Linked DNA regions of Homo sapiens: regions 2 and 3 are each linked to region 1. Evidence: fine-mapped expression QTL. A gene starts in region 1. Each other region holds a variant in brackets. All regions are shown on one strand. Distances are between the middles of the regions. Region 1 holds the start of SLC28A3 (solute carrier family 28 member 3). Region 2 has its middle 28 kb from the start of SLC28A3. Region 3 has its middle 64 kb from the start of SLC28A3.

Region 1 (8,291 bases):
CATTTTATCATCTCAGCACTGTTTCTAAATGGGTATGTCGATGAAAAGAGTTGAACTCTGTTAAATATTTGAAGACATTTATTCTGAGCCAAATATGAGTGATCATGGCCCATGACACAACCCTTGGGAGGCCCTAAGAACATTTGCCCAAGGTGGTCAGGGCACAGCTTGGTTTTATACATTTTAAAAAGGCATGGGACATCAATCAAATACATTTAAGAAATACATTGGTTTGGTCCAGAAAGGCAGGACAACTCAAAGCAAGGGGAGGAGGGGGTTGGGCTTCCAGGCTATAGGGGAATTTAAACATTTTCTGGTTGACAATTGGTTGAGTTTGTCTCAAGACCTGGGATTCATAGAAAGGGAATATTCAGGCTAAGATAAAGATTGTGGAAACCAAAGTTCTTCTGAAGTTTTATAGTGGCTGCCCTTAGAGACAAAGGATGACAATGTTTCCTTTTCAAAATATGTCAAAGAAACATGTTTTGGGGTAAAATATTTTTATTTTCTTCCTTGTCTCATAATGTTATGCGAGTCAGGTTTGAAAGTAAGTCATGATATATAGGGTTAAATAAAACCCATCTGGGCCGGGTGCGGTGGCTCACACCTGTAATCCCAGCACTTTGGGAGGGCAAGGCAGGTGGATCACTTGAGATCAGGAGTTCAAGACCAGCCTGGCCAACATGGTGAAATTCTGTTTCTACTAAAAATGTAAAAATTAGCCAGGCATGGTGGCACACGCCTGTAGTCTCAGCTACTCGGGAGACTGAGGCAGGAGAATCACTTGAACCCGGAAGTCGGAGGTTGCAGTAAGCTGAGATCTGCCACTGCACTCCAGCCTGGGCAACAGAGCAAGACTCTGTCTGACCAAAAAAAAAAAAAAAAAAACCCATATGATGAGAATTTATGATTTGTAGGGCATGACTCCCCAGACCCCTTAGATCATAATTTGGGCAAGATAAAAAAAAAATCAGAGCTTAGTCCTCAGGTACTGTTATCTCCGTTTTATGAAGGAAGAATCTGAGATACAGAGAACTCAGCTACTTGCCCAAATTCCCATGGCCAGTAAGTCTTCCCACCTCAGCCTCCCAAGTAGCTGGGACTACAGGCACGTACCACCACACCTGGCTAATTGTTGTATTTTTTGTAGAGACGGGGTCTTCCTACATTGCCCAGACTGATCTCAAACTTCTGGGCTCAAGCGATTCTCCCATCTTGGCTTCCCAAAGTGTTGGGATTATAGGCATCAGCCAGGTAGTGGATATTTTGTCTTTGAGCCGTGTGGTATTTGTCACAGCTACTCAATTCTGTCCTTATGGGATGATAGCAGCCTTAGACAATACATAAATCAATGGCCATGTTTCTGTTTTTACAAAACTTTATTTATAGACACTGAAGTTTGAATTTCATATAACTTTAATGTGTCAGGAAATATTCTTCCTTTTAATTTTTTTCAACCATTTAAAAATCTAAAACCCATTCTTAGCTCTTGGGCCATATAAAAGCAGCAGAAGGTTAGGTGTGACCCTCAAGCTGTGGTTGGCTGTAGTTATGAGGTAGAGTCCAGGATTTGAACCCAGACCACAGGTTCCTGCAAGCCTTTAATCATTATGTATACACTGTACAGTCTGTATCATGATAACAAGAAAAGAAAAATAACTCCCACAGTCTGAGCTATGTGAGATATGCAAAATCTATCAGGCCCAGAGAGACTGGGCCTCAGTCACTGATAAAGAGAAAACAAAAATAACTCACACAGTCCCAGCTATGTGAGCAATGCAAAATCTATCAGGCCCAGAGAAACGGAGGGTTGGACTTCAGTCACCACTCAACCCTGTGCCCGGGGGCAATTTTTTTTTGCTTTTGTTTTTTGTCTTTTGTTTTTTTTTTGAGATGGAGTCTTGCTCTGTCACCCAGTCTGGAGTGCGGTGGCGTGATCTCGACTCACCACAACCTCCACTCGACTCACCACAACCTCCACCTCCTGGGTTCAAGCAATTCTCCTGCCACAGCCTCCCAAGTAGCTGGGACTACAGGCATGTGCCACCATGCCTGGCTAATTTTTGTAGTATTTAGAAGAGACAGGGTTTCACCATGTTGGCCAGGCTGGTCTCGAATTCCTGACTTCATGATCCATCTGCCTCGGCCTCCCAAAGTGCTGGGATTATAGGCGGGAGCCACTGTGCCTGGCCAGGGGCAATTGTTTTAAAGGAATTTTGTTCCTGACTGGCTGCCTTTCTGTTCCTAGAATGTGTGATACAAATAGCAATGTATAGCCAATCAATAGCTTATGTTATTTTAATGTAAATAATTGGTAAACAACTCAGAAACTCCTTCTTTTCCTTTAAAATTCACTTGTGGCCAGGCACAGTGCCTGTAATCCCAGCACTTTTGGAAACCAAGGCAGGTGGGAAGATTGCTTGAGCCCAGGAGTTCAAGACAAGTCTGGGCAACATAGTGAGGCCCCCAGTTCTACCAAAAAAAAAAAAAAAATTTAGCCATGGGTGATGGCACCTGTCTGTAGTCCCAGCTACTCGGGAGGCTGAGACAGGAGGATAGCTTCAGCCCAGGAGGTCAAGGTTGCAGCAAGCCATGATCATGCACTCCAGCCTGGGCAACAGAACACACACACACACACACAAGAATCTACTTGTAACTGCTACTAAGTGTATATTCAGAGCAACTTGAATATGTGCTCCCAAGTTGCAATCTCAAACTTAGACCAAATAAACTCTATACTTACATTAAGTTTGTCTCCGTTTTTTCCTTTAGGTTAACAATAATAAAAGTAAATCATTCTCTTTATAGAAAACTCAGCAGCATTTGAAGGAGAAAAAAAAAACACCAACTGCCCATAAAATTAAAAACCGAGAAATAACCACTCATAATACTTGGTATTTTCTTACTTTTTCTTTTTCTTTTTCTTTTCTTTTTTTTTTTTTTTTTGAGACAGGGTCTCACTCTGTCATCCAGATGGGAGGCAGCGGTGCGTTTTCGGCTCACTGCAATCTGTGTCTCCTGGGTTCAAGCGATTCTCCCGCCTCAGCCTCCCGAGTAGCTGGGACTACAGGCGCACGTTATCACTCCTGGCTAATTTTTGTATTTTTAGTAGAGATGGAGTTTCGCCATGTTGGCCAGGCTGGTCTTGAACTCCTGGCCTAAAGTGATCCACCCGCCTTGGGCTCCCAAAGTGCTGGGATTACAGGCGTGAGCCACCGCACCAGGCCTTTTCCATTCTTTTGTCCACAGTTTTGCAGTATTTTAAATTGTACTAGGGGGGAAAATCCCTATTTTAAAAGAATTCTACAGCTAATATTTTCATAAAGCAAAGTGAATTGCTTTATGAAAACAAAGCACTTCTATTCACTTTTGATAATTGAATAGCTGGTCACCTTTCATTTACTTGTCACATATCGGCATTTCTGTAAGCTGGATTTTTGAAAGCAGCCCAGTCTGAAGCAGGGATGTAATAAAAGGTTTTGGAATTAACCAAACTTGAATTTGAATTCTCATTATCCCTTTATTAGCTAAATGACACTAAACAAATTGTTAACTTTTCTGTACTTCAGTATAGAATTTTGAGTTGTTCGGAAGAAGAGCCAAGACCCTTACCTACCTACCTATCTGTCTATGTATCTATCCATCTATCCATCCCTGGTATACAGTAGGTGATCACTGAGGGCGGCATGACCTTATATCCTGTGTTCACTCACCCTCCACCCCACCACCACTCCTAGTCTTTAACACCACCCACAGGAAAACAGAGGATTTCACTAAGCACTATAGAGAACGTGTCCTTTTCTGGCTGGGCACGGTGGCTCATGCCTGTAATCCCAGCAATTTAGGAGGCCAAGGCAGGTGGATCACTTGAGGTCAGGAGTTCAAGAACAGCCTGGCCAACATGGTGAAACCCCGTCTCTACTAAAAATAAAGTCAGCCAGGTGTGGTGGCATGCACCTGTAATCCCAGCTACTTGAGAGGCTGAGGCAGGAGAATTGCTTGAACCTGGGAGGCAGAGGTTGCAGTGAACCGAGATTGCGTCACTGCACTCCAGCCTTTTTTTTTTTGAGACTCCATCTCAAAAAAAAAAAGAAAGAAAGAAAGAAAAAGAAAGTGTCCTTTTCTGTTTTGTGCACCACAAGAGTTTTCTCCCCAGGAGTGCAAATAGGATGCCAAAAATGGGGATAAAGGAAAAGATTAATAAGGTGGGCGGGCCAGCACTAGATGCCTCCACCCCGCCAACCCGCCCGCCTCTCTGCCCCACCCCAACCAGGTGTCAGCCCTAGTCATTCAGGAGATTATTGCAGAAGTTTCCAAACTGAAGCAAGCTGTGCCCAGGTCCCTGTAACAGCAGGTGGCTTTCTGACATCAGCAGAGACTGGTGCTTTTTCCCAGGTACAAAGGACCTCCAGACCAGAGCCAGCCAGCAGCAAAAAGAGCATGGAGCTGAGGAGTACAGCAGCCCCCAGAGCTGAGGGCTACAGCAACGTGGGCTTCCAGGTGAGCAGAGCTTTCCTCTTATGTTAAAGGCCTTCAGTGGAAAAGCTGCCCTTTCCTTAGCCCCTTGGCAAGTTTCTTACCTAAGCAGGGAGATTATCAGGACAATACGATTTTTAACGGCACACTTTAAGCCCATTATTTTTTCTTCTTGGGCTCTTCTGGGTTGACAAACCTGAAAAGTCTCTTTTAATCGATGTGTTGTGATCCCTATGGTCACTTAGAAACAAGACAGCCTTCTTCTCTTGCCTTTTTTCCCTTCTGGCTCACAGCAGGGGTCCATTATTTATCTTCAGGCACTTTTCCAAAGAACTGGTGAGAAGGGAAAAATGGGGGAATTTAGATCCTGGCTGGGGTAGTGTCTCAGGGTTCCTTTTACTCAAGCCAAGTCCTGGAGCCCCTGTCAGATGGCCCCGGTACCTGCCCCAGAGCAGCTGGATTACGCAAATCAGTCTCACTTCATCAACCAAAACTCACTGAGTGATTAATGCTGCTCAGCCCGAGGCTGGGTGCCCGCAGAGACATAGAAGGAGACCTGTCAGAAACACCAGGCTATTTTGACTGGGTCTGGGATGGGGATTTCCAGGGCTGTTTTTAGGTGTGCTTCCTTTCCTTAGCTGACACTCAGCATGGGCGCTCTGGAGAAGATGGGAAGCCTGCACCGGCAAGTGTCAACAATCCCTTGGACTTTACGGTCTGCTAGATGGGCAAAACAAAACTTTGAGGTGCTAGCCAAGAAAGGAAAGAGGGAGGTAAAAGGGCTTTGACAGGAGTTCAGACTCCAGCACCCACAAATTCCTGTAACTTCCCAGAGCCCAAGTTTGATCATCTGTCCCATGGTCACAGTGATGCCCATCTCCATGAGTAGGCATCGGGTTACCACTTATAGGTCACAAGTGTAGGAGAGGAAACAACTTCATCTACCCTCTTAGGTTGAGTGCCTGAGGCCTGCAAATTAAACCAACATAAAACAGATTAGCAGGAGAAAAGGCACGCAAATTTTATTCATATTTAAAATCTCACATGTGGCTGGCAGTGGTGCCTCATGCCTGTAATCCTAGCACTTTGGGAGGCTGAGGCGGGCTGATCATTTGAGGTCAGGAATTTGAGACCAGCCTGGCCAACATAGTGAAACCCCATCTCTACTAAAAATACAAAAATCAGCCGGGCATGGTGGTACATGCCTGTAGTCCCAGCTACTCGGGAGGCCGAGGCAGGAGAATCACTTGAATCTGGGAGGCAGAGGCTGCAGTGAGCCAAGATCGTGCCTCTGTACTCCAGCCTGGTTGACAGAGGGAGACTCAGTCTCAAAAAAATAATAATAATAAAATAAAATCTCACATGTATGAGAGCCTCACATAAAAGAAACGGAAAAACCTAATAGACTCAGGAGCTTATATACCATTAAAACAAAGCACGGCAAATAGTGAAATGACTAGACAAAGGAAAAGAGGGTTATGCTTTTAGGGACAATAAAGTGGGGGTGGGAGGTGGAAATAATGGAAGATAAGGGTTAATTTATCGAGGTTTGTTCATGCAGATTTATCTCAGCGGCATCTCTGTCTTTGGTGATAAGGGTTGCTCTCTTCCTTGTATGAGCAAGCGGGACACCTGTGCAAGGGAAATATCAATAAATGTGCTGCTTTTAGGAAGATGGGGGATGGGGGAGGGCAGAGAGCTCTTTCTGTGTCTGCTTTCTTTTTCATAGCCTTCAGTTCAAAATATTCTTGTGCCAAAATGTGGGCATTTGGAGGGTGGCACATCCTGATCTCTTCTCTAAGGGCTAAGTGAGGGGGAAAAGCATAAAGCATGGGCCCATTCTGATTCCAGAGAATGGAAAGGATGGAATTGGATAGAGTCAGAGGAAGTATGGCAGCAAGAAAATATATCTGCAATAGAGAAGGTCCATGTCACAGCAACTGGCTGCTCCCAGGGAGGAGGGCACACAACGGTGGTGATCCCTCACTGTCTTCTAGCAAAACTGCTGTTTTGTGGGGGAAACATCCCCCTACACCTGCCCCAATAAAAAGAAGGAAAAATGAAAGGAAGCTTCCTCCTAGTTCTGTAAAATTTCCTGTCATCCTTACTCATTGGATTGATTGAAATTTGAATTTCTACATTTCAAAATCAAAATAGTGAAGACAATTTGTCTTTCAAGAGAATCAGAGGCCTCATAACTCCTGCCAAGTTAATAAGTATGAGTCTTACCTTGTTTGACATTCAGCTCTCCTGCTACATTATCTTCTTTAAGGAAAATTAATTGATTGTAAAATATGTGCTACTTCACTCGCATTATTAAATATGCATTAACATGCCACCAGGACTTCCAAATAAGTTAGGATGCTTACTTATTCACCTTGTCCTAGTCTGTGAATTGTGCTAGAAATTCATTTTTCTTCTTCAAATATTAAGAGTGCCCTTGGTAGACCAAAGTTCTAATTTTACTAAGTAGAACTACTTTCACAGCTTGAAATGCTGATATGGGTTCCCAAAAGGCCTGTGCCTGTAAGACCTGGTGCAGGTGCAATGGTTATGCATATCTATGGATTACCTGGACAGGCTCTCATCTGGACTGTTCCTCAAAGAAGGGAGCACCAATTGCTGTTTTCATGGAGCTAGTACTCCAGTGGGAAAGGTTAAACAGGAGCACAAAGTCAGTGATATGGGTTATAAGAGAGAAATGATCTCACCTCCAAGAAAGGATTTCACAGCTAGAGCACACTTCATACATGAGAGTGGATTTTGTAACCAACGATAGAAATGAATGTTAGGGTTTTTTTTTTCTAATCTCATTTTATTGTACCTCTAAACGTTTTCTATGAATAAGGAACTTATTTCTCATATGGCTGAGGATGGAAATGACTTCATTCAACAGTAGTTGCAAATAAGACGTTTGCTATTTATGAAGGAAGTTCGGATTGGCATTTAAAGTATTGCGTGTATGTGGAATATCTAAGGATTTCTTATTTTATTTTAAAATATTTTTTAAACCTTAAAACAGTCAGCAAACTGGCTCTTGATTTTGTGCAAGATGTTCCCATCAGTTCAGGAAAAATAACTGCCTGAAAGGACAAAGTACACACACACACGTGTGCAAACACTCACACCCACATACGCATACACACACGCGCGCGCACACACACAGGCTAGCATCCCCAGGCCTCAAGGTTCTAAGCAGGGCATCTCAAACCCAGCAGAGTATCATACCAACAACACCCACACCTAAAAACAGTGACTGGGTTATTTCTATTTATTCAGTAGAATCATCAACTGCCCCCTAGATATGGCCGCCTCTAAGAAGGGATACCAACTCAAGAAAGAATAATATGCTCTTCTTGCCCTCAAGGAGAAGGACAGGCAGAAATAAGCATGCAATTACAATATAATTGATGTTAAGGAAAATGGCGGAGGTTTGCACCAAGTGCATTGTATTCTTATATTTATTATTTTTTATATTTTGTCTTGCTATCTTACCAGGGCTGGTCTGAAACCCTGGCCTCAAGCAATCCTCCTGCTTTGGCCTTCCAAAGTGCTGGGATTACAGTCATGAGCCACAACACCCAGCCAGCACCAAGTGCATTGTAAATAATATATAGCTGGAGCTGAGCTGACTGAGGAGTCTGTGACAGCATCACCAAAGGAGGGAGAATTTGATTAGGGCTTTAAGGATGGTCAGGTCACAGTAGGAGGTGGGGTGGGCAGAGCACTGCAAGCAGAGAGAACTATCTGTACAGACTCAGAACCCTAAAGGAGAAGAGCACATGAGCCTGGGATGGAGGAAGGGAACACGGTAT
Region 2 (8,291 bases), 28 kb before region 1:
GCTCCTAGGTCCAGCCAGAGAGCTCAGCAAACAGTCCGCTCTGAGTAAATGCGAGCATTCTCTTTTTCTAACGAAATCCTTTCCCTCTGACCCTGTATCCCTTGTATTTGAAATAAGAGCAATCTCCAGGGCTCTGCCTGTCTCTACCCCACCTGCTCAGGCACATGATGTTAACCAGGTTCTGATTAGTAGACCATTTACCATCTTAGTATTTTATTTTAATAAATATCAATATCCTCCTCTGGTCTGGCATAAATAAATCACTGCCACCTTGTTCTTCCAGCCATATAAATTCTATTTTGCACTTTTTTTTTGAGTGACAGAGGTTAAAAAAATAGAATAAAATTATGCCTTAATTATGCTGTCAAAGTTTTCTCCAACATTTATCAGGCCTACAGGGGTGGACGAGAACCAGCATGAGGCAAGGCTATGTTTTCAAAGATTTAAAGATGCATAAAATTAATCTTTCATAAGAAACAGATGTACTGTAACTAAATAGAACGAAGAGTTTTATGAAAACGACAAACCCTAACTATAACCCACCAGCAATGCTAAGTTGAAAGCTGAGAGTGTCATGAGCAAAAATAAAGATAAATTAGGGCTACTAGGGGAAACTAAAGATCTGACATCGCCTAAAACCAGGCCAGACAGGGCTTGTATTTAGAGCTCATTAGTTTTGCTTAAGCTAATCCAAAGCAGAAGGTGGCCCTAGAAGCACATAGGCCAAGAAGACATGGGTTCAGTTAGTTTACTCTCAGTACAGCAGCTGAGTGCTGATTTTAAAATGTAAATTTGGAGGCCGGGAGCAGTGGCTCATACCTGTAATCCCAGCACTTTGGGAGGCCAAGGCGGGTGGATCACTTGAGGTCAGGGATTTGAGAACGGCCTGGCCAATATGGCAAAACTCCGTCTCTACCAAAACTACGAAAATTAGCCAGGCGTGATAGAGCGTGACTGTAATCCCAGCTACTTGGAAGGCTGAGGCAGGAGAATTTCCTGAACCCAGGAGGCGGAGGTTGCAGTGAGCCGAGATCACAGCCACTGCACTCCAGTCCCGGCAGCAGAGTGGGACTCTGTCTCAAAACAAAAAAAAAAAAGTAAATTTGATCATGCCATGCCCTACAGAGTCCATCTTCATCTGACTTCATCTTCTACTCCCTCTCCCCAGCTCCTCCACCCTGACCAGGCTGCAGTACTTCTGACACAACTTCATGCTCCCACGTTAGGGCGTTTTTAACAGTTCTTGCCAGTACTTTGACCACAGATATCTTCTTGCACAACCTCAGTGAGTTCACCCTATGAATACTGAGAAATATGAGCCCTCCTGCCCCCTGGCATTTCAAAATCCCTTCCTCTACCCAACTTTTTCCTTTTTTTCCACAGCACTTACCACTTTTAGCATAATACAGTGAACCCATTTGTTATATTTGCTGTTTCTTTTCTCTCTTAAAAGTATTTTTTTAGTTTCTTTTTTAAATTTTAATTTTTAAAAAATCTATGAGGGAAGCAGAGCAAGTTGGCAGAATAAAAGGCTCCACCAATTATCCCCTCCCCAAAAAAAAAACTCCTTAAATGGGAAAACATTCCATGCTTATTCATAGGAAGAATCAATATTGTTACAATGGCCATACTGCTCATTGAATTTATAGATTTAGTGCTATTCCTATCAAACGACCAGTGATATTCTTTACAGAACTAGAAAAAACTATTTTAAAATTCATATGGGCTGGGTGCTGTGGGTCACAACTGTAATCCCAGCACTTTCGGAGGCCAAGACAGGTGATAATCTGAGGTCAGGAGTTCAAGACCAGCCTGGCCAACATAGTGAAACCCCGTCTCTACTAAAAATACAAAAATTAGCTGGGAGTGGTGGCCCACTCCTGTAATCCCAGCTACTCGGGAGGCTGAGGCAGGAGAATCGCTTGAACCCAGGAGGCAGAGGTTGCAGTGAGCCAAGATCACGCCGTTGTGCCCCAGCCTGGGTGACAAGAGTAAAACTCCATTTTGGAAAAAAAAAAAAAAATCAAAGGGTACCAAAAAAAGACCTCAAATAACCAAGGCAATTCTAAGCAAAAAGAATAAAGCTGGAGGCATCACGCTACCCAACTTCAAACTATACTACTACAAACTATACATCAGGGCTACAGTAACCAAATAGCATGGTACTTGTACAAAAACAGACAGATAGACCAATGGAACAGAATATAGAGCCCAGAAATGAGACAACACATCTACAACCATCTAATTTTCGACAAAGTCAACAAAAACAAGCACTGGGGAAAGGACTCCCTATTCAGTAAATGGTGCTAGAATAACTGGCTAGCCATGTGCGGACTATTGAAACTGGACCTCTTCCTTACACTACATACAAAAATTAACTCAAGATGAATTAAAGGCTTAAATGTGAAACTAAGAACTATAAAAACCCTGGAAGACAACCTAGACAATACCATTATGGACATAGGAACAGGCAAAAATTACATGATGAAAATGCCCAAAGCAATTGCAACAAAAGCAAAAATTGACAAACGAGATCTAATTAAACTAAAGAGCTTCTCCACAGCAAAATAAACCATCAACAGAGTAAAAAGACAACCCACAGAATGGGAGAAACATTTCGCAAACTATGCATCTGACAAAGGTCTATTATCCAGCATCTATAAGGCACTTAAATTTTACAAGAAGACAAACAACCCCATTAAACAGTGGGCAAAGGACATGAACAGACACTTTTCAAAAGAAACATATATGTGGCCAACATGCATGTGAAAAAAAGCTCAACATCACTGACCATTAGAGAAATGCAAATCAAAACCACGATGGATACCATCTCACACCAGTCAGAGTGGCTATTATTAAAAACACAAAAAGTAACAGGGGTTGGTGAAGTTGTAGAGAAAAAGGAATGCTTATACACTGTTGGTGGGTGTGTAAATTAGTTCAGCCATTGTGGAAAACAGCGTGGCAATTCCTCAAAGATCTAAAAAGAGAACTACCATTTGATGCAGCAATCCCATTTCTGGGTATATACCCAAAGAAATATAATCCTTCTATTATAAAGACACATGCACACATATGTTCATTGCAGCACTGTTAACAACAGCAAAGACATGGACTCAACCTCAATGCTCATGAATAGTAGATTGGATTAAAAAAATACAATATCTATACACCATAGCATACTATGCATCCATAAAAAAGAATGACATCATATCCTTTGCAGGAACATGGATGGAGCTGGAGGCCATTATCCTTAGCAAACTAATGCAGGAACAGAAAACCAAATACTACATGTTCTCACTTATAAGTGGGGACTAAATGATGAGAACATATGGACATAAAGAGGGGAACAACAGACACCGGGGCTTACTGGAGGGTGGAGGGCTGGAGGAAGGAGAGGATCAGGAAAAATAACAAATGGATAATAGGTTTAATACTTGGGTGATGAAATAATCTGTACAACAAACCGCTGTGACACAAGTTTACCTATATAACAAACCTGCACATTACCCCTGAACTTAAAAGTTAAAAAAAAAAGAACCAAAAAATCACATGAGCCCTCAAAGTACCCCCACCCCTCCATTCCACGCTTGACCCCAGCAGTAGCATGGTGCGGAGCGCGTCTCTGGGCACTGAGGGAGGGAGTAAACAGCAGTTGTAAGGCATTGAACTCAGTGCTGTTCTGTTAGAGCAGAAAGGAAAACTAAACCAAACTCAGCTAACACCCACCTATTGGGGGAGCATTCAAACCAGCCCTAGCCAGAGGGGAATCGCCTATTCCAGCTGTCTGAACTTGAGTTCCCACAAACCTCACCACTGAGGGCTACAGTGCTCTGGGACTCTAAAAAACCTTAAAGACAGTCTAGGCCGTAAGGGCTGCAAATCTTAGGCAAAAAAAAAAAAAAAAAAAAAGTAAATGTGATCATGCCATGCCCTACAGAGTCCATCTTCATCTGACTGCATCTTCTTTTTTTTTTTTTTTGAGACAGAGTTTTGCTCTGTCGCCCAGGCTGGAGTGCAGTGGCATGATCTTTGCTCTCTGCAACCTCCGCCCCGCTCCGGGTTCAAGCAATTCTCCTTCCTCAGCCTCTTGAGTAGCTGGGATTATAGGTGCCCAGCACCATGCCCGGCTAATTTTTGTATTTTTAGTAGAGACAGGGTTTCATCATGTTGGCCAGGCTGGTCTCAAACTCCTGACCTCAAGTGATCCACCTGCCTCGGCCTCTCAAAATGCTAGGATAACACATGTGAGCCACCACGCCTGGCATGACTTCATCTTCTACCCCCTCTCCCCAGTTCCTCCACCCTGACCAGCCTGCAGTTCTTCTGACATGACTTCATGTCCTAGGGCTGAACTGGGCCCAGAGACAGTGGACTTGGTGGGGGGGCAGGGGTGTGGCATGTGACATACTGAGACACCAGCTGGGGTGCCCCTCCTCTAACTCCAGGCTGCACAGCCCTCCGCTGCATAAGACACTCCTTCCTTCCTCTTGAGGAGAGAAGGAAGAGTGGGGAGGACTTTGTCTTGCATCTTGGATGCCAACTCAGCCACAGCAGGATAGGGCACTGGGCAGAGTTGTGAGGCCCCCATTCCAGGCCCCAGCTCCCAGATGACATTTCTAGACACACCCTGAGTCAGAAGTGAACCTGCCACCTTGAAGGAAAGGACCCAGTCCGGCCAGCATTCAGCATCTGCTAAATGAAGAGCGCTTGGGACCTGAACAACCAGCAGCGATACCC[A/C]GGTACTGTATCAGTGTGGGGGAAAAGAAGAGAGATCAGACTGTTACTGTGTCTATGTAGTAAAAGAAAGACATAAGAAACTCCATTTTGATCATATTAAGAAAAATTGTTCTGCTTTGAGATGCTGTTAACCTGTAACTTTAGCCCCAACCCTGTGCTCATAGAAACATGTGCTGTATTGAATCAAGGTTTAAGGGATTTAGGGCTGTGCAGGATGTGCTTTGTTAACAATATGTTTGCAGGCAGTATGCTTGGTAAAAGTCATCTCCATTCTCCGTCCTTTATTAACCAGGGACACGATGCACTGTGGAAAGCCACAGGGACCTCTGCCCAAGAAAGCCTGGGTATTGTCCAAGGTTTCCCCCCACTGAGACAGCCTGAGATATGGCCTCATGGGAAGAGAAAGACCTTACCATCCCCCAACCCGACACCCATAAAGGGTCTGTGCTGAGGCGGATTAGTAAGAGAGGAAGGCCTCTTTGCGGTTGAGATAAGAGGAAGGCCTCTGTTTCCCGCATGTCCCTGAGAATGGAATGTCTCCGTGTGAAGCCGACCATTCATTCTACTCTGAGATGGAGAAAACCGCCCTATGGCTGGAGGCGAGATATGCTGGCAGTGATACTGCTCTGTTACTCTTTGCTACACTGAGATGTTTGGGTAAAGAGAAACATAAATCTAGCCTACGTGCACATCCGGGCACAGTACCTTCCCTTGAACTTATTTATGATGCAGATTACTTGCTCATATGTTTTCCTGCTGACCTTCTCCCCATCATCACTCTGTTCTCCTGCCACACTCCCCTTGCCGAGATAGTAAAAAATAGAAATCAATAAATACTGAGGGAACTCAGAGACCAGCGCCGGTGCAGGTCCTCGCATGCTGAGTGTGCGGGTCCCCTGGGCCCACTGTTCTTTCTCTATGCTTTGTCTCTGTGTCTTATTTCTTTTCTCAGTCTCTCGTCTCCACCTGACGAGAAACACCCACAGGTGTGGAGGGGCAGGACCCCTTCAATCAAGGGCCTAGGGTGAGCCTCTGAAACTTGCTAGCTTCAGATACCAGCACAGCCACAAATGGGCAAAGCACCAGGCAGGCTTTTGGGGTCACATATTTCAGGACCTGGCTTGTGGATATCTCTGGACCTGCCCTGGGCCAGAGGGGAGCCCATTGCCCTGAAGGGTGAGTCCCAGGCCAGGCAGCATTCACCACCAGCTGACTTAAGAGACTTTGGGCCTTAAGAGAATATTGGCGGTAGTATGGCAGTACTTCCTGTGGAGTACTCCCCGTGGCCTGCGGTGGTGGTGGCTATGAAGTGAGGCTCCTCTGCCTTTGGAAAAGGGAGGGAAGAGTGGGAAGCACTGTGTCTTATGGTTTGAGTGCCAGCTCAGCCACAGTGCAGGTAGACTTCTAAGGTTTTCATTCTACTCCCTGAGGCCCAGACAGCACCTCTGGACCCACCAAAGGCCTGGGGGAGCTTGCTGACCTGAAGGGAAGGACACAGGCCTGACTAGCCTTGTCACCTGTTGACTGTAGAGCCCCAGGGCCTTGACAGAACATAGGCAGTAGCCAGGAAGTGGTTACAGAAGGTCTTGGGTGAGACTCAGGGCTGTGCTGGCTTCAGGGCTGACCCAGCACAGTCACAGTGGTGGTGGCCACAGAGGTGCTTGTGTCGCTCCACCCCCAGCTTTAGGTGGCTCAGAACAGAGAGAGAGATTCTGTTTGTTTGGGAGAAAGTAAGGGAAGAGAACAAGAGTCTCTGCTTGGTAATTCAAAGAATTCTCCTAGATCTTGTCCAAGACCATCAAGGAAGTACCTCTACAAGTCTGCAAGAACCACAGTGTTGCTGAGCTTGGGGTGTCCCCCAAAGCAGATATAGCTTAGATTACAACACTCTAGACCTTTCAAATATCTGGAAACCCTTCCCAAGAAGGACAGGTACTAACAAGCCCAGACAGTGAAGACTACAATAAACACTTAACTCTTCAATGCCCAGACACCAAAGAACATCTACTAGCATCAACACCATCCAGGAAAACAAGACTTCACCAAATGAACTAAATAAGCCAACATGGACCAATCCTGGAGAAACAGAGATATTTGGCCTTTCAGACAGAAAAATCAAAATAGCTGTGTTGAGGAAACTAAAAGAGATTCAAGATAACACAGAAGGGTCAGAACTCTATCAGACAAATTTAACACAGAGATTGAAATAGTTTAAAATAAGCAGAAATTCTGGAGCTGAAAAATGCAACTGGCATATTGAAGAATGCATCAGAATCTTAATAGCAGAATTGATCAAGCAGAAGAAAGAATTAGTGAGCTTGAAGCCAGGCTGTTTGAAAATACAGTCAGTTTACAGCCATACCACCCCGAATGCACCCAATCTTTTTTTTGTTTTTTTGTTTTGAGATGGAGTTTCACTCGTGTTGCCCAGGCTGGAGTGCAATGGCACGATCTTGGCTCACCACAACCTCTGCCTCCTGGGTTCAAGCAATTCTCTCACCTCAGCCTCCCAAGTAGCTGGGATTACAGGCATGTGCCACCACGCCTGGCTAATTTTGTATTTTTAGTAGAGACAGGGTTTCTCCATGTTGGTCAGGCTGGTCTCGAACTCCCAACCTCAGGTGATCCTCCCACCTCAGCCTCCCATAGTACTGGGATTACAGGTGTAAGCCACCACGCCCAGTCTTCGAGCACACCCAATCTTGTCTGAAAATATACAGAGACAGTAAAAGAATAAAAAACTGGATATCCATATGCAGAAGAATGAAACTAGAACCCTATCTCTCCCCATATACAAAAATAAATCAAAATGGATTAGACTTAAATCTATGAAACTACTACAAGAAAAGTTTGGGAAAAATCTCCAGGACATTGTTATGGGCGAAAATTTCTTGAGAAATACCCCACAAGCACAGGCAACCAAAGCAAAAGTGAACAAATGGGGTTATATCAACTTAAAAAAAACTTCTGCACAGCAAAGGAAAAATAGCAACAAAGTGAAGTTTTGCAAACTACTCATTTGACAAAGGATTATAATCAGCATATATAAGGAGCTCAAACAACTCTATAGGAAAAAAAATCTAATAATCCAATTTAAAACTAGGCAAAAAGATTTGAATAGACATTTCTCAAAAGAAGACATTTAAATGGCAAACAGGCATATGAAAAGGTGCTCAACATCACTGATCATCAGAGAAATGCAAACCAAGATTACAGTGAGATAGCATCTCACCCCAGTTATAATGGGATATATCCAAAGACAGGCAATAACAAATGCTGGTGAGAATGAAGAGAAAAGGGAACTCTTGTACACTGTTGGTAGGAATGTAAATTAGTACAGACACTCTGGAGAATAGTTTGGAGGTTCCTCAAAAATCTAAAAATAGAGCAACTATATGATCCAGCAATCCCACTGCTGGGTATATACCCAAAAGAAAGGAAGTCAGTATATTGAAGAGATACCGGCACTCACATGTTTGTTGCAGCACTGTTCACAATAGCTAAGATTTGGAAGCAACCTAAGTGTCCATCAACAGATGAATGGATAAAGA
Region 3 (8,291 bases), 64 kb before region 1:
TACTGCAAAGGGCAAAAGAACAAAACTCCCACCCTGTCAAACAGGACTCCAGGAAGTTGCCGCTGCTGGCTCCGGCAGCCTGCATTTATTCTCTTATCCAGCCCCACCCACATCCTGCTGATTGGTCCATTTTACAGAGAGCCGATTGGTCTCTTTTACAGAGAGCTGATTGGTCCGTTTTGACAGGGTGCTGATTGGTGCATTTACAATCCCTTAGCTAGACATAAAGATTCTCCAAGTCCCCACCAGATCGGCTAGACACAGAGCACTAATTCGTGCATTTACAAACCTGGAGTTAGACACGGGGTGCGGATTGGTGCATTTACAAACCTTGAGCTAGACACAGAGTGCTGATTGGTGTATTCACAATCCCTTAGCTAGACGTAAAGGTTCTCCAAGTCCCCACTAGACTCAGGAGCCCAGCTGGCTTCACCCAGTGGGTCCTGCACGGGGCGGCAGGTGGAGCTGCCTGCCAGTCCTGTGCCTTGCACCCGCACTCCTCAGCCCTTGGGCGGTAGATGGGACTGGACGCCATGGAGCAGGGGGTGGCGCTCGTCAGGGAGACTCCGGCGGCACAGGAGCCCACGACGGGGGTGGGGGGAGGCTCAGGCATGGCGGGCTGCAGGTCCCGAGCCCGGCCCCGCGGGGAGGCAGCTAAGGCCCGGCGAGAAATCGAGAGCACCGCTGCTGGGACGGCCCTGCTGGGGGACCCTGCGCACCCTCCGCAGCTGCTGGCCCAGGTGCTAAGCCCCTCACTGCCGGAGCCGGCGGGCCGGCCGGCGGCTCTGAGTATGGGGCCCGCCAAGCCCACGCCCACTTGAAACTCTAGCTGGCCCGCAAGCGCCGCACACAGCCCGGGTTCCCGCCCATGCCTCTTCCTCCACACCTCCCCGCAAGCTGAGGGAGCCGGCTCCGGCCTCAGCCATCTCAGGAAGGGGCTCCCACAGTGCAGCGGCGGGCTGAAGGGCTCCTCAAGCGCCGCCAGAGTGGGCGCCCAGGCAGAGGAGGCGCCGAGAGGGAGCGAGGGCTGCCAGCAGGCTGTCACCTCTCAGGATTACAGGCTTAAGCCGCCACACCTGGCCGGCAAATAATCTTTGTAAAGAAAAAACAGAAAACTCTTAGACATATTTCTTTTTCTTTTTTTTAATTGAGACAGTCTCTGTTGCCCAGGTTGGAGTGCAGTGGTACAATCTCAGCTCACTACAACCTCCGCCCCCGGGTTCAAGGGATTCTCCTTCTTCAGCCTCCCCAGTAGCTGGAATTGCAGGTGCCCGCCACCATGCCCAGCTAATTTTTGTATTTTTAGTAGAGACAGGGTTTCACCATGTTGGCCAGACTAGTCTTGAACTCCTGACCTCAGGTGATCTGCCTGCCTCAGCTTCCCAAAGTGCTGGGATGGGATTACAAGCATGAGCCACTACGCCCGGCCCCCAGTTCCTTTTTTGCCCTTCCATCTGGTACTATGTGAGGACATAGCAAGGAGGCACAGCATGAAGAATGGGATCTCGGCAGACACCGAATCTGCCATTGCCTTGATCTTGGCCTTCCCAGCTTATAGAACTGTGAGAAAATAAATTTCTGTTTTTTATAAATTACCCAGTCTTGGGTATTTTGTTATAGCAGAACAAATGAACAAAGACATACACTGAACATTTTGAATGATATGTTGTAGAGACTCTTGATTTTGTTTTTCTCTAAAAACTGTGATTTTTTTCTGATAAGCAGTTAAATTACTAACATGTCATATTGATCCTGTCAAGCCTTGGGATTTGGCTTTCTTAAGGCAGGTCTATTTCATCTTTGCTCTCAGCCCTACAGCATGTCCCTTATTCCTAGGACATAGTGATTTCCCCTAAGGTGAGTGTTGTTTTGGGTCTCAAATGTTCCGCTCTACTTTAGTTGAATCAGAACTCCAACATCTCCCTAACAGATCAAACTTCTAAAATCACTGTTTACCTCTCAGTCCCCTAGAAGCTGTTCTCAGCTAGACTTTGCAGAGTCTGAGTCAATAAATATGCAACTAAAGATCTTGCCAAGGACCTGAAGGAAGCTCCTATACAGATTTCTGATTGTTTCTCTTCAATTGCCTTCTCTCTGGTATCAGACCTGCAAGTTCAAGCAGTCTTAGCTACCCTCACTTTCTGTCTTCATTTTCTCCACCAGGCAAGACTTCAACTATCTGGTTGGGCTCCATTTCCCTACAGTTTGGAAAATGTCTCAAGCAAAAAGTCAGTATTGGTTAGGCATGGTGGCTCATGCCTGTAATCCCAGCACTTTGAGAGGCTGAGGCAACATGGTGAGATCCCATCGCTACAAAAAAGAAAAATTAGTGGGGCATGGTGGCTCATGTCTGCAGTCTCAGCTACTCAGGAGGCTGAGGTAGGAGGATCACTTAAGTCCAGGAAGTCGAGGCTTCAGTGAGCCATGATCGCACCACTGCAAGACAGACTGGGTGACAGAGCAAGACCCTGTCTCAAAAAAACAAAATACAGGCTGGGCATGGCGGCTCATGTCTGTAATCCCAGCACTTTGGGAGGCGAAGGTGGTTGGATCACCCGAGGTCAAGACTTCAAGACCACCCTGACCAACCATGGTCAACATGGTGAAGTCTCATCTCTACTAAAAATTAGCTGGGCGTGGTGATGTGCACCTGTAATCCCAGCTACTCGGGAGGCTGAGGCAGGAGAATCGCTTGAAACTGGGAAGCAAAGGTTGCAGTGAGCTGAGATCACACCATTGCACTCCAGCCTGGGAACAGAAGGAGACTCCATCTCAAAAAAAAAAAAAAAAAAAAAAGGCAGCATGAAAATGGACCTCACTTTGTGTGCTGTCTTTCAAGAATTGCAGTCCTGTGATGTCTACTGTCCAATGCCTAACAATACATGTTCATATATTTTGCCCAGCTTTATAATGCTAATAGCATAAAAATAAACCTGTTGCTCTGTCTTGACAAAGATTGAAAGTACTTTATAGGGCCAGGCCCATTGGCTCACGCCTGTAATCCCAGCACTTTGGGAGGACGAGGAGGGCGGATCGCCTGAGATTGGAAGTTCGAGACCATCCTGACCAACATGGAGAAACCCCATCTCTACTAAAAATACAAAATTAGCCAGGCATGGTGGCACACACCTGTAATCCCAGCTACTCAGGAGGCTGAGGCAGGAGAATCGCTTGAACCCAGGAGGCAGAGGTTGCGGTGAGCCAAGATCGCACCATTGCACTCCAGCCTGGGCAACAGAGTGAAACTCTGCCAAAAAAAAAAAAAAAAAAAAAAGAAAGAAACAAAGAAAGAAAAGAAAGAGCTTTGTATTTTAACACTTCAGTAATTTTCACTTTTCTAGAATAACAAAGACCTCTAACGCAAAAGTCATCAAACACCAGTTTAAAATAAGTTCTAAATTGGGAATGAGAAGACCAGGTTACTCCATGAGTTCTTTTACTGCCTAGTTGTCATTTAAGCTCCCTGATCCTCAGTATTCAACTCTGTAAAAACAACAAGCTGAGCTACACGATCACTGATGTCTCTTTTAGCTCTAGTGTAATACAATTCTTCTATTCCCATTACGTACATTAGATTAATGGGTTGTACTACTTCAGGAATCAAATCAGCGGTTCCTCATTAAGGCAAATGTTTTTTTTGTTTTTTGTTTTGTTTTGTTTTGTTTTGTTTTTTAGAGACAGTCTCACTCTGTCACCCAGGCTGGTGTGCAGTGGCATGATCTCAACTCAATGCAACCTCCACCTCCCAGGCTCAAGCAATTCTATGCTTCTCCCAAGTAGATGGGACTACAGGTGTGCACTGCCACACCCAGGTAATTTTTGTATTTTTAGTAGAGATGGGGTTTCACCAAGTTATCCAGGCTGGTCTCGAACTCTTGAGAACTCTCGAACTCTCAAACTCTGGCCTCAAGTGACCCAACCGCCTCAGCCTCCCAAAGTGCTGGGATTCAAAGCCTGAGCCATCATGCCTGGCCAGGCAAGTCGTTTCTAAAGTTCTCAGTTCCAACAGCCTATTGAGAAACTGTTGAGCCTCCAAGCTCTCTGGAAGTCCTCTCTGATGCTTGAACAATGGTGCATGGAGGTACAGGTTGGTACAGAGGGTGAGAGCCTGTGAGCAAGATAGAGGAGCATGGGTGGTGGACTAAGTAAGACTTCAAAGCCCAAGTAACCCAGCTTCCAAACTCACAATGAGTTCCTATCACTTCTGAATCTGTTGCCTCATCTGTGAAATGGCTAAAATGATCCTGCCTTGCAGGGGTATTCTGGGGGTCAAATAAGATAATGCATGAGTTTGGGGTAAACCTGAAAGGCTTTTTTTCACTGATATTTAAAGATGCATAGGAAGTCCCTTAGTGGCCTCTGAGACATGGCGACTCATACATTAAGGTTTCAAAAGTCTTCCTCACCACCTAATCTCCACCATCTCTGCTACAGGGATGGGGAGCAGTCGGTGTTCAGCAGAAACCCCCAAGGTGGCACCTTGTCACCTATCCCCTTCCTTAAGAAGTAACCAGATTGTCATGTGAGACCAAAAAGAAGAGAAGAGTTGGATCAATTAACACTATGTCAAGAAGGAAGCGGAATAAGTCTATTGGATTTTGAGGAACACAGCTGGGGTCAGGGGCATGCACCTATAGTCTCAGCTACTCAGGAGGTTGGGGCAGGAGGATC[T/C]CTTGAGCCCAGGAGTTCGACACCAACCTGGACATCATAGTGAGCCTCTTTAAAAAGGAATAAAATAAAATAAAATAAAGATATTGAGGAATGCAAAAGAAAACATCTCAATCCTGGTCTCTTCAATCTGTCTGCCTACCCACCCAGTGTATTCTCAGAACTAAAGAGATCCAGGGCTTTGGATCCCAGGAGGAGGTCCCCTGAGCCACTTATGAGGACTGGCTCCAGAGGAGAATGACTGAGAACTCCAGAAAACGCACTGAGGAGCGTGTTACCCTGGACTGAGTGAGTGTGTGGAGAATTGCCTTTCTTTGAAGGCCCCAACTTTCTGGACTGGGTCATAGGGCAAAGACCACGGGGTCCAATGGATGGATGGAGGACAATTTGTGTTCATCAGCGCCCTCAAGTGGCGGTGATGAGCAGCTGCAGAGCTGCGGACCAACACTTAGTTTTTTTTTCCCTACTTGAAAATTGAACTTTGGAGAAATTTCCTTTTAGACTGCAAAAGATTCAAAAGGTTCACAGATGATCCTTAAAGGAGAGAGGACCGACCCCAAAAGTGTGATAATGAGCTTTTTGCCAATCTAGTGGATGGTGTGTTGTAGATAAGTTCATACTTACTACATGCATGAAGACCAGGGCTCAACACATGGTAAATACTTAATTAACCATCATTATGAATAAATGAGAGCTTAATCAAATAAAGATTAAGGTATATATGATGGGGACATGACTTCTTAGTTAAAATGCTGTCGACTAAAATGCAAGCTCCAAAAGGGTAGAATTGGGCCAGGCGCAGTGACTCATGCCTGTAATCCCAGCACTTTGGGAGGCCAAGGCCAATGGATCACTTGAGGTCAGGAGTTCAAAACCAGCCACATGGTGAAACCCCGTCTCTACTAAAAATACAAAAATTAGCCGGGTGTGGTGGTGGGTGCCTGTAATCCCAGCTACTCAGGAGGCTGAGGCAGGAGAATCACTTGATCCCAGGAGGCAGAGGTTGCAGTGAGCCAAGATCGTATCACTGTACTCCAGCCTGGGCTACAGAGTGAGACTCAGTCTCAAAAAAATAAATAAATAAAAGGTAGAATTTTTGTTTGTTTTGTCCACTGCTATACTGCCAGCATTTAGAACGGTGCCTGGCATGCTCAACTTGATGAATATTTGTTTAATTGAATGTTAAATGAACTGGGTGGAGGACAAAGTCCAGGCCTCTTGTACCATGCCACACAGCTGTGTCTCAGGCCCTTTACTGTCCAATGTATTTACCACCAGCATGAAGAAAGACTGGGAAGGCTTGTTTGCCAAACCGGCCAAAACACCAAGCAGGGAGAAATAGTCACTATGCTGGATGACTTGTAATATGGTTTGGCTGTGTCCCCACCCAAATCTCATCTTGAATTGTAGTTCCCATAATCCCCACCTGTCATGGGAGGGACCCAGTGGGAGGTAATAGCATGGTTACCCCCACACTGTTTTTCTCATAGTCAGTGTGTTCTCATGAGATCTGATGGTTTTATAAGGGGCCCTTTGCCCAGCACTTCTCTCTCTCCTGCCACAATGAGAAGATGTGTTTGCTTCCCCTTCTGTCATGATTGTAAGTTTCCTGAGGCCTCCCAGCCATGCCGAACTGTGAGTCAATTAAACCTCTTTCCTTTGTAAATTACCCAGTCTTGGGTATTTCTTCACAGTAGTATGAGAATGGACTAATACAACTTCTATCAAGATCCAAACAAAAAGAACTCAAACTAGAAAACTGGGCTGAAACCAACAAGATAAAATGTAATTCATACAAATTCCCACATACACAATGAAAGAATATCAAATGTGCAATTTCAGGATGGAGAAGGCCTGCTTTGTAGCAGTCCCTGATGAAAGGCCTGGAAGGCCGGCAGCCAGGCCTGTATTAACAACACTTGACACAGCTGTGAAAAATCCTTACACGGTGGCAGATACCTTCATTGGAAGAGGGTGTCCAGAATAGGGACAAAGTGGCAGGACAGCTCTCCAGTGCTGCCTGTAGAATGTCACATTCATCTGGGGTGTCACAGGGCTCGGGCCCAGAAATGAAGGGAGGGACACTAAAAATTGCTGTGGAGAAGAGATTAATGGAGGGACATGACTTAATGTTGTCTTCAGCTATGTATAGGGCTGGGCACGATGGCTTACAACGATAATTCCAGCACTTTGGGAGGCCAAGGTGAGAGGATCACTTGAGCCCCAGAGTTTGACACCAGCCTGGGAAACATAGTGAGACCCCATCTCTCCTAAAAATAAAATAATTAGCCCAGCATGGTAGCACTTGCCTGTAGTCCCAGCTACTAGGGAGGCTGAGGCAAGAAGATCACTTGAGTCTCAAAGGTCAAGGCTGCAGTGAGCTGCATTTGTGCCACTGCACTCCAGTCTGGGCAACAGAGTGAGAAGACCCTGTCTCAAAAAAAATGTGTGTGTGTGTGTGTGTGTGTGTGTGTGTGTGTGTGTGTGGTGTGTATGTAACTGCCCTTGGTTCTGGGCACACCCAAAATACAAGTCTAGGACTGTACTATACGGAAATTATGAGGAAGCTTTAAAAGAGCTTTCCAGGCCGGGTGTGGTGGCTTACACCTGTAATCCCAGCACTTTGGGAGGCTGAGGCAGGCAGATCACTTGAGGTCAGGAGTTGGAGACCAGCCTGGCCAACATGGCCAAATCCTGTCTCTACTAAAAATACAAAAATTAGCCAGGAGTGGTGGCGCATGCCTATAATCCCAGCTACTTAGGAGGCTGAGGCAGGAGAATTACTTGAACCTGGGAGGTGGAGGTTGCAGTGAGCCAAGATTGCACCACTACACTCCAGCCTGGGAGACAAAGTGAGACTCCGTCTCAAAAAAAAAAAAAAAAAAAAAAAAAAACAGAACTTTCCAGTTACCTAGAACTGTTCAGAAATAGTATTAGCTGTGTTAGAAAGTTATGGTTCCTTCTCTTTCAAAAAAAAAAAAGAGAGGAGAATGAGAATTTCTATTTATTAAGTGCCTGCTGTATACAGTGCCAGACCAGAAAATGCATATCTCCTTTCTTCTTTCTTCCTGCACGTATTATTAATACAGAATTCTTACATCCAAAACTATCTGTATCCATATCCATAGATGGGTGGTTAATTAGAAAAAAAAGTTAAGGCAAGGAATCATAAAAGATTATACATACATACCTTAAATATTTAACTTAACCCGCCAGAATGCGTTTTTTTCAACTTTGACATAGAACCAAGTCCTGTCTTTGAGAATTGACCTACTAATTGGAGTCTGCATGGTCTCCTTTCATAAACTCCAACCATGATTTCCAGTTTCCATTTTTTTGTTTGTTTTGTTTTTTTGTTTTTTGTTTGTTTGTTTGTTTGTTTTTGAGACAGATTCTCACTCTGTCCCCAGGCTGGAGTGCAGTGTGGCAGGATCTCAGCTCACTGCAACCTCTGCCTCCTGGGTTCAAGCGATTCTCGTGCCTCAACCTTCTGAGTAGCTAGGACTACAGGTGAGAGTTATCATACCTAGCTAATTTTTGTATTTTTAGCAGAGACAGGGTTTCCTCATGTTGGCCAGGCTGGTCTTGAGCGCCTGACCTCAGGTGATCCACCCATTGTGGCC

What was found.
Region 2: its variant is fine-mapped to the expression of SLC28A3 in whole blood (TOPMed, PIP above 0.99). The same link has a PIP of 0.9 or more in monocytes and monocytes after LPS.
Region 3: its variant is fine-mapped to the expression of SLC28A3 in monocytes (Quach 2016, PIP 0.95).

The regions. Positions count from the first base shown.
Region 1 is chr9:84,336,783-84,345,073 of GRCh38, reverse strand. SLC28A3 (solute carrier family 28 member 3) reads left to right here and starts at 4,316. Exons shown (of 18, transcript NM_001199633.2): 1 at 4,316-4,500. The coding sequence starts at 4,441.
Region 2 is chr9:84,364,903-84,373,193 of GRCh38, reverse strand. It overlaps a transcript of SLC28A3 not described here. Among named protein-coding and RNA genes, the nearest start is that of SLC28A3, 28 kb to the right of the region's middle. The variant A/C (reference allele first, on the strand shown) is at 4,741.
Region 3 is chr9:84,401,067-84,409,357 of GRCh38, reverse strand. No RefSeq gene overlaps it. Among named protein-coding and RNA genes, the nearest start is that of SLC28A3, 64 kb to the right of the region's middle. The variant T/C (reference allele first, on the strand shown) is at 4,672.